Linked DNA regions of Homo sapiens. The protein of the gene in region 1 interacts with the protein of each later gene in a biochemical or structural test. Each region holds a gene or a part of one and is shown on either strand. Other genes may lie near its edges.

Region 1 (7,000 bases):
TTATTAGCCAAATTGGTAATGTTGAAATAGCAGCCATGGTATAAAACCAGAGGATTACTAATGTTCAGATAACCATTTCTCTAAGCATTTAAGGATAGTGTTATCTACACTTGAAAGTTAAAGTATGGAGGAGCAGCTTGATCTAATGGAAGCTCTGGCTTTAAGAGTCCAGAGAGCAAGATTCCAGTCTCTGCTGTTTCATTAACTTTAGTTAACTGTACAAATCCTGTGTCTGAGTACAATATATGCACTTTTTTTGTACCATGGTTTCTTTATGCTAATGTCTGTCATGGTAAATTACATTCTTCAGTTCTCATGTTAGATGTTTGTCTTCGGATCACAGGTACCCTCTTACCAATTATACTTTTGGTACAAAAGAGCCCCTCTACGAGAAGGACAGCTCTGTTGCAGCCAGATTTCAGCGCATGAGGGAAGAATTTGATAAAATTGGAATGAGGAGGACTGTAGAAGGGGTTCTGATTGTACATGAGCACCGGCTACCCCATGTGTTACTGCTGCAGCTGGGAACAACTTTCTTCAAACTGTAAGTAGTGTTGGAAATTAACAGCAAGACAGTTTTTAGTAGGATTGCTGTTTATGCAGCTCTGGAATACAATTTTAGCCCTCGGTCATTCATTTCAACAAACACTGCTGTTAATGATGTCTTTAGAAAGAGAAAATCATGAGTAATTTTTCTCCATTGCAGTGCTCATTTATTTTCCTAACTAGTAATCTGTATGTTTCTGTATGTTGTTGATGTTAATGATTGAGCTTGGTAGAAACCCCATGGAATAGTTGAGTCCAAGATCAATGTCTAGATGTCATTGTAGCATTACCAAGAACAATTGATATTTCTTTCTTGGTATGATTAGCATTTCCTGTTCTTAAGATGACTTAGGTTTTTGTGGATAACAGTTTAGTGTTTTATCATTTAAGCTCCTACATCTCTCAAACATTTGATCCGTAACTATTTGACTAGATTATACCAAAAAGAAAAGTCTCCAATACTTAGATGACGTTCTTGAAAAAGTTTCCCATTCTTTAGGCCTAAAGAATGTGATCCATTCCTCTCTGAGCATTTCTAGACTCCATTATCATCAGATAGCTCCCAGAGAGGAGATTGGGATGGACTGGTGGTTAGCAATTTTGTTTATGTTTGTGCTATGTTATATATTCTGTTTGTTTAAAACTAGGGTTTATGTGATGGGTACATATGGACATAAAGTTGGAAAAAATAAACACTGTATACTCCAAAGGTGGGGAGGGTGAGGGGGAGGCGAGGGTTGAAATACTTCCTATTGGATGTTATGTTCACTGTTTCAGTGATGGGTTCACTAGAAGCCTAAACCTTAGCATTACACAATATACCTATGTAACAAACTTGTACATGTACCCGTTGAATCTACAATAAAATAAAAATAAATATATACGAAGAGGAAAAAAACCTAGGGTTTGTATACTGTTAGTCTGGGGAATTGACATGAATTCAAGCATATTCTCCCCCTTCACTTTGATACTTGTTTTGATTGCCTTATTATGCTGAAATATGTTCTTAGTGACTTGGTAGAAATAACAATTATTGTGTTATTTGTTATCTCCAAATTGTATTAAGTTGAAAGCTGAAATTCTTAACTTTTATACAGACCTGGTGGTGAACTTAACCCAGGAGAAGATGAAGTTGAAGGACTAAAACGCTTAATGACAGAGGTATTTTTCTGTTTAACCACTTTGAATACCATCAACTTACTAGTTATTTGGCTTTTAATGTCTTGTAAAAAGGATGCTTATTTTGGAATATTTAGTTTTCAATAAATACAACTTAAACTCCAGAAGGTTAGTACAATGTTGATTTTTTTTTACAAGTTGAAGTTACACTTATTTCAATTTTTAAAATGTTAAACTGTGTCACAGCAATGGTAAATTAAAACTGACATTTAAGTATTACTGTGCTAGACACTGTTCTGAGTGCTTTACATGCGCTAATTCCTTTAATCACCACCACAACTGTAGGAAGTAGATATTATTAAGTTTAAATTACTTCTTGTTATATAGCTAGTGTGTTGTAGAGCCAGAGGTTTGAATGCAGGTAGTTTTGTTCAAGAGTAGGCCTCTATAGAATTTTGAAAAGAGAAAGATGCCTGTGTTTTCACTTTTTTCACATATTTTTTAGACTTTGCCCAAATTATTCTACTTTTTAAAAATCATTGTAATGCCTGCATGTAAAGACTTGGGGCCAAATGCATAGATACTGAGGATTTTGAGATTGTAAATTGTTTTCAATGTTAGTTTTCTTCTTTAACATTCAATTGCCGCCTGCCCCTGTTACAAAGCTCATATATTCTCTGTGCAAAAAGCTTGGCAAACACAGAAAAGCAAAGGAGAAACAAAACTAAAGTCACCCGTAATTCTCCCACTTTTGACCTATTGGTTTGTCTTTCTAGTATTTCTAAAAATGTATTATAACTCTTAAACATTTTCCTGTGCTTGGACTTCCATTTATATAATGTATGGTACAAAGATATAAGTCCATTAAGGTTGAGGGAGTGCAAAATGAGAGAATCACAAAAGCAAAATTTTTGGAAACTGGAAAACAGATGGGCAAATTATAACTAACTTAGCAGAAACCTTAGTCCAGCAGACAGGCAGGCAGAATCTAGCATTGCAGAGTACCAGAATGACTGAGGAACTGAAGGTGCTAGGTACTTATGAAAGTGGGGGCATGCATGGGCTGAAAACTGGACTGGTTCAAAGTATATATGGAGTATATTTATACAGGTTGTGTATTCCTTATCTGAGAGCTTGGGACCAGAAGTGTTTAGCTGCTATTTGATAGCACAACAGGGTGACTATAGTCAATAATCACTTAATTGTAAATTTAAAAATAACTAAAAGAGTATAATTGGATTGTTTGTAGCACAAAGGATAAATGCTTGAGGGGGTGGATATCCCATTCTCCATGATGTGAATATTACGCATTGCATGCCTGTATCAAAACATCTTGTGTACTCAAAAAAATTAAAAATTAAAAAAGTGGTTAGGATTTGGGATTTTTTTCAGGTTTTGGAATATTTGCATTATACTTACCAGTTAAGCATCCCATATACAAAACTTGAAATGCTCCAATGAGCATTTCCTTTTTTTTTTTCTTGAGACGAAGTCTCTCTCTTGTCACCCAGGCTGGAGTGCAATGGTGCAATCTTGTCTCACTGTCACCTCCGCCTCCCGGGTTTAAGCGATTCTCCGGCCTCAGCCTCCCGAGTAGATGGGATTAAAGGTGCCTGCCTCCACGCCCAGCTAATTTTTGTATTTTTAGTAGAGACAGGGTTTCACCATGTTGACCAGGCTGGTCTAGAACTCCTAACCTCAGGTGATCTGCCTGTCTTGGCCTTCCAAAGTGCTGGGATTACAGGCATGAGCCACCACGCCCGGCCTGAGCATGTCCTGTGAGCATCATGTCAGTGCTCAAAAAGTTTGAGATTTTGGAGTTTCAGATTGGGATGTTCAACCTGTGTATCTAGATTGTCTTCCCCACTCTGTAATTAGGCAAAGACTGGCTGATGATTCTCTGTAGTAATTGAATCAGAGAACAACTAGCAATGAAAAAAGTTTAGGGGATGGGGAGAATAAGAGTTCCTATTCTGAATAGTCAGACTCTTGGACCTCTATTAGGCTGACAGAATGTTAACAATTAGGCTTGTTTTTTTTTTTTTTTGTTTTTGTTTTTTTTTTTTTGAGGCGGAGTTTCACTCTTGTCGCCCAGGCTGGAGTGCAGTGGCGTGATCTCCAATGTGAGCAATGGTTGCTCACTGCAACCTCTGCCTCCTGGGTTCAAGCGATTCTCCTGCCTCAGCCTCCAGAGTAGCTGGGATTACAGGTGCCCACTACCATGCCCAGCTAATTTTTATATTTTTAGTAGAGATGGGGTTTCACCGTGTCGGCCAGGTTGGTCTCGAACTCCTGACCTCAGGTGATCTGCCTGCTTTGGCCTCCCAAAGTGTTGGGATTACAGGTGTGAGCCACTGTCAGTCTAGGCTTACTTATTTTTTTTAGAGACAGGGTCTCACTCTGTTCCTCAGGCTGGAGGATGGTGGTGTGATCATAGCTCACTGTAACCACAAACTCCTGGGCTCAAGCAATCTTCCTGCCTCAGCTTCCTGAGTAGCTAGGACTGCAGGTATGTGCCCATGATGCCTGGCTAATTAAAGAAAAGTTTTTTATAGAGATGAGATCGTGCTATGTTGCCCAGGCTGGTCTCAAACTCCTGGCCTGAAGCAGTCCTCCCAAAGCATTGGGATTACATGCATGAGCCACCAGGCCCAGCCAACAATTAGATTTATATATCCCAGGCTGAGGGTTGGAATTCTTGTTTCTGGAAAAAGTGACCAGTCCAAGAAAAACTTCAGATACTGCCATTTGGGAGCTGTCTTCGTCTGTTTAATGTTGCTATAACAGAATACCTGAGGCTGGGTAATTTATAAAGAAAAAGATTTATTTGGCTCACCAGTTCTGGTGGCAAGATTGGGCAGCTGGTGAGGGCTTCATGGTGCTTCCACTCATGGCAGAAAGCAAAATGGGAGTGGGCATGTGCAAAGAGACATGGCAAGGGAGGAAGCAAGAGTGAATCCAGGAAGCCACACTCTTTAACAACCCTCTCTCCAGGGAACTAATCCATTCCTGATGGAGGAAGGGTATTAAACTATTCATGAAGGATCCACCTGCATGACTCAAACACCTTCCACTAGGCCCTGCCTGCCAACACTGTCACATTGGGGATCAAATTTCAACATGAGTTTGGGGGCAGGGAGACAAACCATATCCAAACCAAAGCAAGAATTTTCTATAGAAATAATGTAGTCCTGGGCCAGGCGCGGTGGCTCACACCTGTAATCCCAGCACTTGGGGAGGCCAAGGCGGGTGGATCATGAGGTCTGGAGTTTGAGACCAGCCTGACCAGCATGGTGAAACCCCGTCTCTACAAACATAAACAAATTAGCTGGGCGTGGTGGCGGGTGCCTGTAATCCCAGCTACTCGGGAGGCTGAGGCAGGAGAATCAGTTGAACCCAGGAGGTGGAGGTTGCAGTGAGCCAAGATCATGCCACTGCACGCCAGCCTGGGCAACAGAGCAAGACTTCGTCTCAAAAAAAAAAAAGAAAAAAAAATATTGTAGTCCTATCACTCATGCACACAGAGGTGACAATTAAGCATCTTGTTGCTTCTCCCTTGTGAGTACACAACCAACTATCACCAGGCTTTTGGAGAAAACTTCTTAACAAGAAAAAGATCAAAAGAAGCAAAAGGACCTCAACAGAAGCAGAAAATTCAACCATTGACAAAACTATGATTAATATTCTTGGTGAGATGAGAGGAGATTTTGCACCTGTGAAACAGTGCTATTAAAAAGACATTTTAGCCAAGAAAAACCTCATGGATATTAAAAAAATGTTGGAAGAAATGAAAAATTCAGTAAAGAGTTAAGAGGTTCATTCTACCAGAAAATAGAATGAAAAGATAAAAAGATAGAATGTAGGTAAGAATAGATAAAATTAGTGGGTCATTCTAGAAGGACCAATATAAACTATAGATAAATAGAACAGAGTAAAAGGAAGAATTAGCAAAGCATAATTAGAGAAAATTTCTCAAACCTCAAAGGGCATGAGTTTTGAGATTGAGAAGACCTACTGGCCTTGCCTCTATAGTGAATGTTTAAAGATCCACGCAAAGGCATATCATCATGACGTTTTAGATCCTACAAACGAAAATAAAAACAAAAAGATGTAAAAGCTTCCAAAGTGGGAGGTGGAGGATTGGTAAGCAGAGAGGTTAAATGCAAAACATCAAAATCAGAAATTGCATTAAACTACCCAGAAATAATTCTGGAAGCTAAGGGATGGTGGAGTGTTGTCTTTGTAATTTTGAGAGAATATAATCTCTGTCCTAGAATTTTCTAATCAAACTATAAATCAAGTGTGTGGGTAAAAGTTACTTCTAGACATGCAGAGTTTCAAAAAGTTACATCTCTTGTACCTTTTCTCAGGAAGCTACTAGAGGGTGTTCACCCCCAAAATGGAATAAAATAAGGACTCCAGCTGTGAAGCAGGGTTGAGACTATCAAGTACAGATTACAGCAGGATGATAGAAAAACGTGTCTTAGGCTGGGTGTGGTGGCTCATGCCTGCAATTTCAGCACTTTGGGAGGCTGAGATGGGCAGATCACGTGAGCCTAGGAGTTTGAGACCACCCTTGGCAACATGGTGAAAAATTAGCCTGGTGCTGTGGCTTGCATCTGTAGTCCCAGCTACTCGGGAGGCTGGGGGCAGGGGAGGCTGAGGTGAGAGAAGCGCTTGAACCCATGAGGTGGAGGTTGCAGTGAGTGGAGATCGCGCCATTGCGCTCCAGCCTGGGTGACAGATCTTGTCTTGAAAAAAGGAAAAACATGTCTTAGAAAAGATGAAATTAATAGAATAACTGACAATTGATATTTGAATTGGGAAGAAATTTAAGTTATCATGGAGAATGTGGGAAATGAATTTAGTGATAGCAAAGGAAATGAAAGTTATTAACTAAAGAATAGGACAGTTGAACAAGTAAGGAGATACGGTTTGCTAATCATTGCTCTGTTGTGACTGATCTACCGGATCATACTAACTTAAATACTGAATATTGACTTAACCAAATATTGATAATGGGAAGATGGTGGAAGAAAAAGTGTAACTAGGATGTGTGATTTTAATATCTAAATTCTCATTCATAGTAGAGGGTTATAGGCTTTTAAAAAATGTTTTTAAAATGAAAATCAAGAGGCCAGGCGCAGTGGCTCACGCCAGTAATCCCAGCACTTTGGGAGGCCGAGGCAGGTGGATCACAAGGTCAAAAGATCGAGACCATCCTGGCCAACATGGTGAAACCCTGTCTCTACTAAAAATACAAAAAAGCTGGGTGTGGTGGCGGGCACCTGTGGTCCCAGCTACTCGGGAGGCTGAGGCAGGGGAGTCGCTTGGA
Region 2 (8,405 bases), on another chromosome or scaffold:
TCTCCATTCTGTCTTGAGCCAATCCAGTGAAATTTAATTTCAGTTATTTTTAATTTCTAAATTTTCCTTTTGGTTTTTTTTTTGTAGTTTATATTTCATTACTGAACTCTTTTCATTTATTTTAAGTGTGTTTTTCTTTATCTCAGGGAGGTATAGTTATTGTTGCTTCAAAGTTTTTTACTATCTTAACATAGGAGGCTTAGTCTGATCATTTCAACTTGTAAGTTACCTTGGACTTGACAACTGTTGATTAATTTGATGATCAGGTCATATAGACTTAGTTTCTGTTGGGGTTTTAGCTGCCATGCTACTGCAACCATGCCACTCTGCAACCAGAGATCACCCTCAGGGCAGAGCTACGAGGTGGGTGAAATGGGAGATTTACTCCCTTGCAGTTGTTTCTCTAAATTTTGGCTGTCCTCCGTATTGCTTTCTGTTTATTCATTAAGACTATACTATACAGAGTCTGAATGTAGTTGTGGTTTTTTTTTTCCTTTGAGTTTTCTAACTGTAATTAACAGGACCAATGGCTTGTAGTGCTTGTAGTGGGCTGCAGTGTATGATGCCCTAGTGCAATTGGTACTTTACTTTTTTTTTTTTTTTTTTTTTTTGAGACTGGGTCTCACTTTATTGCTCAGGCTGGAGTGCAGTGGTGCGATCACAACTTACTGCAGCCTTGACCTCCCGGGCTCAGGTGATCCTCCCACCTCAGCCCTGAGTAGCTGGGTCTACAAGCTCGTGCAATCACATCCAGCTAATTTTTTTAATTAATATTTTTTGTAGAGATGGCCTTTCACCATGTTGCCCAGGCTGGTCTCAAACTCCTGAGCTCAAGTGATCCTCCTGCTTTGGCCTCCCAAAGTGTTAGAATTACAGGCCTGAGCCACCGTGCTGGGCCTTCCCTTTACTTTTTATTTTAGATATAATTAGATCTTAAAGTCTTCATAGAAGGTTGCATTTCAGTATGTAGTTTTGGTTTGTTAAGAAATATTAAGAACTATAGTAGCTAGGATGCTATGTCTGTTCTTTAGCTTTAGAACTGCTTAATAGCATTATTGTTGCCATTAAACTCATTCTTTCTGATAGTTTAAAATTTAGTACTCTCAAATTGAGTGTGCCAAACCAAATTCCTAAGCATTTTAATCTCTGATCACAAATTGCTTTGCATTTCTTGGTTTTCTCAGTTAATATGTTGATCTGTTATTTTTGCTTGAGTCATTCAGTTATCTTGTAAAAACCATGTTTGGTTCTCTGTAAATAACTATTGGTAATAAGAACATGTCGTTCTTCAGTACCCTCATCTCCCTACTTGTAACAGGCTGAAAGAAGTCCTAGCTGTAAAATATGTTCTGTAACATAAGAGAATGATATTTTGCATCAATTCTTAGGTGTGTCGTTTGGACTGGTGATGAGCGGGTCTTCTTTTATAATCCCACCACTCGTCTTTCTATGTGGGACCGACCTGATGATCTGATTGGCAGGGCAGATGTTGACAAAATTATTCAGGAGCCCCCTCATAAAAAAGGAATGGAGGAATTGAAGAAACTAAGTAAGTTTTAAATTAGGAATTTATCCACTGATTTTAACATTCTTTTCATATTTTGATAGAAAATGTGGAAGGCATTTAGAAACCCTTTATTTTTCAAAGAATATAAGAAGCATTCGAAAAAAATAGACTGCTATCCTAGTTTGAATGAAATAATAGAGATTAAAAATATGGAGAGAATTTGGATAAGATTGTGCTTTGTAAAATATGTGTGTCTTTAATTTATTGTCCTACTCAAGATTTTCAGTTAGTCCAAGATATGGTTGGTAGTGTTGCTGCTTGCTTAGTGCTTATCAATACTACTAAAATGCTCCTCGGTGGGCCTTTTAGCACCTTTTGTGACTAGTAATATATTTCTTGAAATAATACATTACAAATTTTTTAAAAATACAAAATCTCAATCTTTTGAATTAGATGGTAAGCTCCTTATATTCCTGAGACTAGACACCTAAACCTTACTAAGAGATTATCTTTTAATCTATCTCATATTCAGAGGGCATACTAATATATTGAGTACAGATATTTGTACGTAATTTTTGTTGTGTATTTCTTATTGGTAATTTGCCCTTGTGTTGATATGATTGTGTTTTTATAGAACTGTGGCCCGCAAGTGGTATAGAAGCAAGATAAATGAATTATTTAATGCTTCTAATGAAATAAATCCTAGTGTGTATCATTTATAGTCATTGAGACATTTTCATGCATTATATATATGCTGAATTATAAGTAATTTCTGAGTCAGTGCCGCTTTGCCTATCTAGTGCTGAAGGTACTAGGCTCACCTTCAGCAATACTTGTTTTATAGGTATGATAATAATACTTTATAACTATGGTATTGAATGATGTTGAAACAATATGTGATTTTCTTTTGTTTTTCGTGAATTTGTTTTTAAATATTTGATTCATTCATTTGATAAATACATTAACGTGCATTGTTAAAAGGTACTGTAAATCCTGAATCAAGAAAGCTTTATTTTATATATTTGTAAATTTAAGGTTTGGGCAAGAAACATTTCAAAATGAATTAAATTTAATGTAAAGGGAGGATAAATAGAGGAAGTGTAGAATTATGCTTTGTTTAATGTTTTATAAAGGGATGAATATTAAGAGGTGAATATATTATGTAAACAGTAATTTTTAAAAAGAAAAGTTTGTGAAATATATGCAAATGACTTTGTAACAATATTTGAAATGTTTTTGCCAGGGCACCCAACTCCGACAATGCTGTCGATCCAAAAGTGGCAATTCTCTATGAGTGCAAGTGAGTGAACTAACCATAAATTGCAGCTTCTTTTTAATACTATTAAAGCAAGTGTTCTGGTAGTGATTAGCAGAAGGATTCATTCCTAAATATTTTAATTAAATTTTGTCTTATAGTTAAAGAGGAACAAGAATTAATGGAAGAAATTAATGAAGATGAGCCTGTTAAAGCAAAAAAACGGAAGTAAGTAATACATACGATTTGATTGAGGTAGATTATATCTTTTAAAAGTCGATTTGGTAATAATTTGTGATTGGAAGGGACAGGTAATGTGAATGTTGTTAGGAGGCATGATTGCTCTCTTAGGCCTGATAATAAATAGCTTTGTTTTTCATTGTAGAAAATGTGTCCCTTCTTTTGCTAGATTTGTAGAAGATTTGGGTATTCATATATGTATTATGACTCCAAATGATAGTTTTGGAATTAATTCTTTTTGGAAATTTATTAGGTCTCAATTTTATGAAAAGTTAGTTTCCTCCCTCATTTAGACCCCAATGGATACCATTCCAGAGATCTCATAAAAACAGACACAGACTTCTCCCTCTTTATATGGTTATCTTACGACTTACCTAGTCCTTGAGTCTGGTCATTAACTCCTTGGTGAGGAGAGAACCCATAAGCTTAGGAAGTGCTCTGCGAGAAAGAGACTGCTAAGAAGTAGAGGCATTAGCTTGGCCAGTGCTCTAGAGTTGGGTAAAATGTAAATGTTATGGCGGGGGGAAGGATGGGGTAGAGGGTATGCATGTATGGGGAATGGGACCATTATTTAGCAGCAAAAAGGAAAGTTTGAAGACATTAACAGGAACTGGTTAATTGTAGTCCTTATCTGAAAAGGACAGATTGAATGCAGCCAAATTATGGCAAAGAAATCAGTAGGACAACCCCTATAAAGGGTAGTTCTTTTAAAAAAAATTTCTTTATTGGCAACAACATAAAAGATATGAAAGAATCACTCATAATTTATCAGCGTAACATAGCTATTCTCATTTTTGCAATTGACTTTTTAGTTCTTGACCAAATGTAATTTTTATTAGTTGTGATTAACTGATTTTGTGCTTTTTTTTTAAAAAAAAAAAACCTAGAATAAGACATTTGTTTTGTTAATTATTATAAATGACTGTATTCATTCTGTTTATGTACCATAATTTTGGATGTTCCTACGATGTTAAACTTTTAGGTTGTTTTTAATTGTTTGTTCTTATAGACAACTCTGTAAGGTTTTTAACTGCTTTTATCAGGAGAATGTCAAAGAAGTCCTTTATGTGGATTGCCCGAGCTTCTCTATTTAGGTACAAAGCTAAAAGCCTGTTTTTCCTGGCTTAGTTTTTCTTTTATTTCCTTTATTGAGATAGATAGTGATAGTTTGTATTGTGACATTTTCATTTAGTATAGTTCTATAAAGGTTATTTGTTTTTATTAGTTACTTCTTGGATGTCTTTTAACTCTAACTATTTAAATAGTTTTAAAATTATTATTATAAGAGGGTATATTGTTTGGCAAATTGCTTTTACCTGTTTGTTTTGTGCATATCTTAGGTCACAGACTATCTCGCTAAGTTCCTGCAGGTCACGGACTATGTCTTCTATTTCTTTTGATTCATTGCCTAAGTTGCTAAGTACCTCTCACTTGCATTTGTGGGTTAGCCTTAGTTCCATTTAAATCTCTGGGGCTACCTACAGTTTCCTGTATAGCATGCTTTTGAATTTCCACATGTTCTGTTTTCCTAATTCCCTTAAGTTTGTATAGGGAATAAGAGCCAATTTTTAAAATATACTTAGCAGATCATATTTAAGAAGGAAGATCTGCTAAAATACACCCAGATATTATTGAATTACATACTTTTTTGGATTATTTACGTGAATGGGCCTTTTTCATAGTGCATATATTTGAGAGGTGCCGTGATTCCATGTTTACAATTTCACTTGAGTACCACACAGAAACAGGGTTGCCCTTACACCTGAGGTGCATTTTTGGAGGAACAAGAAGTAGTTTAGTCATTGATGAACAGTTCTAATTCCACCTAACTACTCCTGGGCCCATGTTGCTCTCTGGGACCTGTCCTTCAACTTAAATCTCAACTTATCACCCAGAAAGTGAGTAATAAAAAGTCAGGTAGGTAAGGTATATATCTTACATATTCACTTGGCCAAGATTGCAGATATTTTAGTTTTATTTTTAAAATGAATGTTTGAGATTACTAAAACATTATACCACTTAATACCAATTTTTATTAGATTTTACAAAATATTTTATGTGTTTATAATGTAAAACATTTTGGAAAATACTGTTTTTTCTATATTTCAAGAACTAAAAAAATTATATTTTGTGCTGTTTGATTCTGACACATAGAGGTTTACTGCAGTGTTAAACTTTTTTTTTTTTAAGTAAGGTTGCTCCCTTTTTATGTTATTAACCAGTGTCAGGGAGAGACAGCCCATTAAAGGTGTATTTTTTTCCTAATAATGTAGCCATTGTAAATCATTAGAAGCCCATTTTAATTTTGTTATTATGAAAGTTATTTATCCCTTAGAGTTCATTTGAAACCCTCAATATAATTTGTTTTTGCCAAAAATATGCTGCTCAGTAGTGAGTCTTGAAAATTCCTTTGATTTTAAGATTTCTAATAAGATCTGAGAATTAATATTTTGTCAGTTGATGTCTTATATTTTATTTTTTATAGGAGAGACGATAATAAAGACATTGACTCAGAGAAAGAAGCTGCCATGGAAGCTGAAATTAAAGCTGCCCGAGAAAGGGCCATTGTCCCTCTGGAGGCTCGAATGAAGCAGTTCAAGGACATGCTGCTAGAGAGAGGGGTCAGAAAACAATCTTTGGGGGAGATATTTCTGTTTTGTATAAGTAATATAAATATGTCTTGCTAAAAGGTCAAATCTAAGGTTAGTGCTCATGTTATGGGGGGGGATAAGGGGATTTTTAAAATTACTGTACATTTTTTGCAACAGCCTTTTTCTTGGCTAATCTTATCATATTTAACTAAATGCCATTTTACTGTCCTTTTAAGTACAAATAACACTTAACATTTATTGGGTCATTAAATTGTGGTGAGTAATATAAGACGAGTATTAACATTACAGAATGGCGGACTGCTTGGGATAGGTAAGGTATATATGATTATTCTTCCTTTAATATCTTGAGAATGGCTTTTGTTAAAGGAGAACTGATACTTTGTGATATTATTATTTGCAATTTAATTGAGAAGGGATTTCAACTATTTGGTTATATTCACAGATTCATTTGAATAAGTAAAATTGTTCAATTTTAAATCACAACATTGTTCACAAGATTGGAGCAAGCATGAGAAATCAAAATATAAATCTTCAAGGCTTTTTCTGATGTACTGATTTTTAAAATGTCACACAGTAGTAGTTATTTTAATGAGTAATTAAGTGTCTGTTATTTCTATATAATATAGGAATGTTCAGAGCCAATTAGTGTGGAAATTTGCTATTGCTAGCCTCCCACTGCTTGTCATTTATTAGTGATGGAAACTTCAGTATGGTTTTATGTCTCCTTTATAAACAGATATCCTGTAGATTTCAAGCAAAATTATGACCTTTATATTTTTAGAGGAGACTTAATTATGAGGCAATACGTTTTTATTTTAAAGGTGTCTGCTTTTTCAACGTGGGAGAAGGAGTTGCACAAGATAGTTTTTGATCCCCGGTACTTACTTCTCAATCCTAAAGAGAGAAAACAGGTAAAAGGAAAATGGCATTAACTAAGAATGTATATCTCTTGCCAACATAGTTTTTAAATTATAAGGAATAAAGTACCATCCCTTTTTTTTCTGATACAGCATTTCAAAAATATAGTCTTGCATCTTAGAACATATTATGTGTCTGTGTGTGGACATTTCTACTTCAAAATTCTTGGATATTTTTGCCCTTATGAGCATGGCTGTTGTCTTGTAAACATTTTGTCCTTATGCCTCATATACCTAGGTTATGTGTAGTATGGTTTTAAAATTGATTTCAAATGCATTTACTAATTTGCTTGTTTGGGCCAATGATGCAAATTTAGAGTAGAAAAATAGCAAAATACAGATGAGTAAAAAGGATAAAAAAGCTACTGTAATCCCAACTAATAGATATGACTACCGTTGAACACTGGTTTATTATTGAATACTGAACAGCCTTCTTGACCATTATGTGTCAGTATGTACATATATATGTGTGTGTGTGTCCTGTAGATAGTACTTGAACATAGGTTTATGTCTTATACACAACTGCATATACAAAGTTCACATCTAAGTAGCATCTGTTAAAATATCTGTTTCCATCATAAACTCAGAAAAACAGTGGATACTTAAGGGTCCCTGTTGAATTAGTGTTGCTTTTTATTCCCATGATGATTCAGTGACACATATCATTTCGTGATTGCCTCTTCTAAAGCATTGCACACTTCCAACTTACTTAATTTCTGAATTACCTGAACTATCCTGACACTGATCTCCATAAAATGGTGAGTATGTGGAACCACTTGCTATAGTGCTGTTAAGCTGTAAGATTTCATTTGGTAACAGTAGTGCCCATCTTTGATATTTTTAATGTAACAATTGAAATAATTCTTCACATGGTGTGTACCATTATGCATGTAGGTCTAATCATGGACTTGAATGAAGGGAGAAAATTTACAATGTGCCAGATATGTATTTTAGTACTTGGAATAGAAAGACATAACTTCCTTAATGTATTTGCATCTTCATTTTAAGCTTTGTATCTTTTTTAAAAAACAAACTCTGTGTGAGTTTTTTATTCTCATTTCAGTTTATGGCTCTATCAAAATTTATAAATTAGCCTTGATTCCTTACTTTTCCCACTTCCCCTTTACAGTCTTATCAGCAAATCTATAATCTACCTTCAAAAAATTTTCAAAATCTCACCTTTTATTAATCATTTCCCCCATTAACACCCTAATCCAAGCCACCATAAACAACCCTTATCATCTGTGTAGCCTATTGTTGATCTCCTTCATTCCATCTGTTCTTGTTCCTCTTTAGTCAAGTTCTTTTTCCACACAGCAGCCAGGCTAATTTTAAAGTTTAAGTGATACTAAATTAAGTCACTGTTCCCTTGCTTAAAACTGTTTAGTGCTTTCCATTTCATTGAGAATAAAATTGAAGCTCTTTTCATGGTCTCTAATATTCTACATAGACTTACCCCTGTATACCTCTTGATGGTCTTTTTTAATGTCTGTTGATTACAGCCACACTGGCCCTGATATTACTTGAACAAGCCAGTCATTCTGGTGTTTGCTATTCCTTCTGCCTGGACTGTTTTTCCTCCAGGTGTTAGTACAGCCAGCTTCATTTCATTAAGGTACTTGTCCCAGTGCCTTCTAATCAATCTAAGTATTGTCTCTTTGCCTTTTCTAATTTCTTTATGGTGCTCATGGCTCTAATTGTATAAAATTATGTTTTTATTATTTGTCTCCTCCTCCTGCAAAATATAAATTGTATGAGGCTAGAAACTTTGTCTTCATTGCTTTATTTGTAGTGCCTGGAACATTGCCTAATCTAAATATCTCTGAAGGCTTTAAAACTTTTATGACGTATTCCTCCTGGTACTGAGTGTTATA

What was found. The genes of interacting proteins can lie anywhere in the genome.
Region 2: the proteins of NUDT21 (region 1) and TCERG1 form a complex in vitro, tested with the Homo sapiens proteins (one study listed by BioGRID).

The regions. Positions count from the first base shown.
Region 1 is NC_000016.10:56,441,333-56,448,332, reverse strand, and holds part of NUDT21 (cleavage and polyadenylation specificity factor subunit 5), read left to right. Parts: intron 1-343; coding exon 344-544; intron 545-1,643; coding exon 1,644-1,707; intron 1,708-7,000. UniProt on the Homo sapiens protein: Component of the cleavage factor Im (CFIm) complex that functions as an activator of the pre-mRNA 3'-end cleavage and polyadenylation processing required for the maturation of pre-mRNA into functional mRNAs.
Region 2 is NC_000005.10:146,477,105-146,485,509, forward strand, and holds part of TCERG1 (transcription elongation regulator 1), read left to right. Parts: intron 1-1,388; coding exon 1,389-1,549; intron 1,550-2,750; coding exon 2,751-2,807; intron 2,808-2,923; coding exon 2,924-2,990; exon of another isoform or gene 2,991-4,045; coding exon 4,046-4,096; exon of another isoform or gene 4,097-4,342; coding exon of another isoform or gene 4,343-4,466; exon of another isoform or gene 4,467-5,487; coding exon 5,488-5,623; exon of another isoform or gene 5,624-6,435; coding exon 6,436-6,525; intron 6,526-8,033; exon of another isoform or gene 8,034-8,146; intron 8,147-8,405. UniProt on the Homo sapiens protein: Transcription factor that binds RNA polymerase II and inhibits the elongation of transcripts from target promoters. Regulates transcription elongation in a TATA box-dependent manner.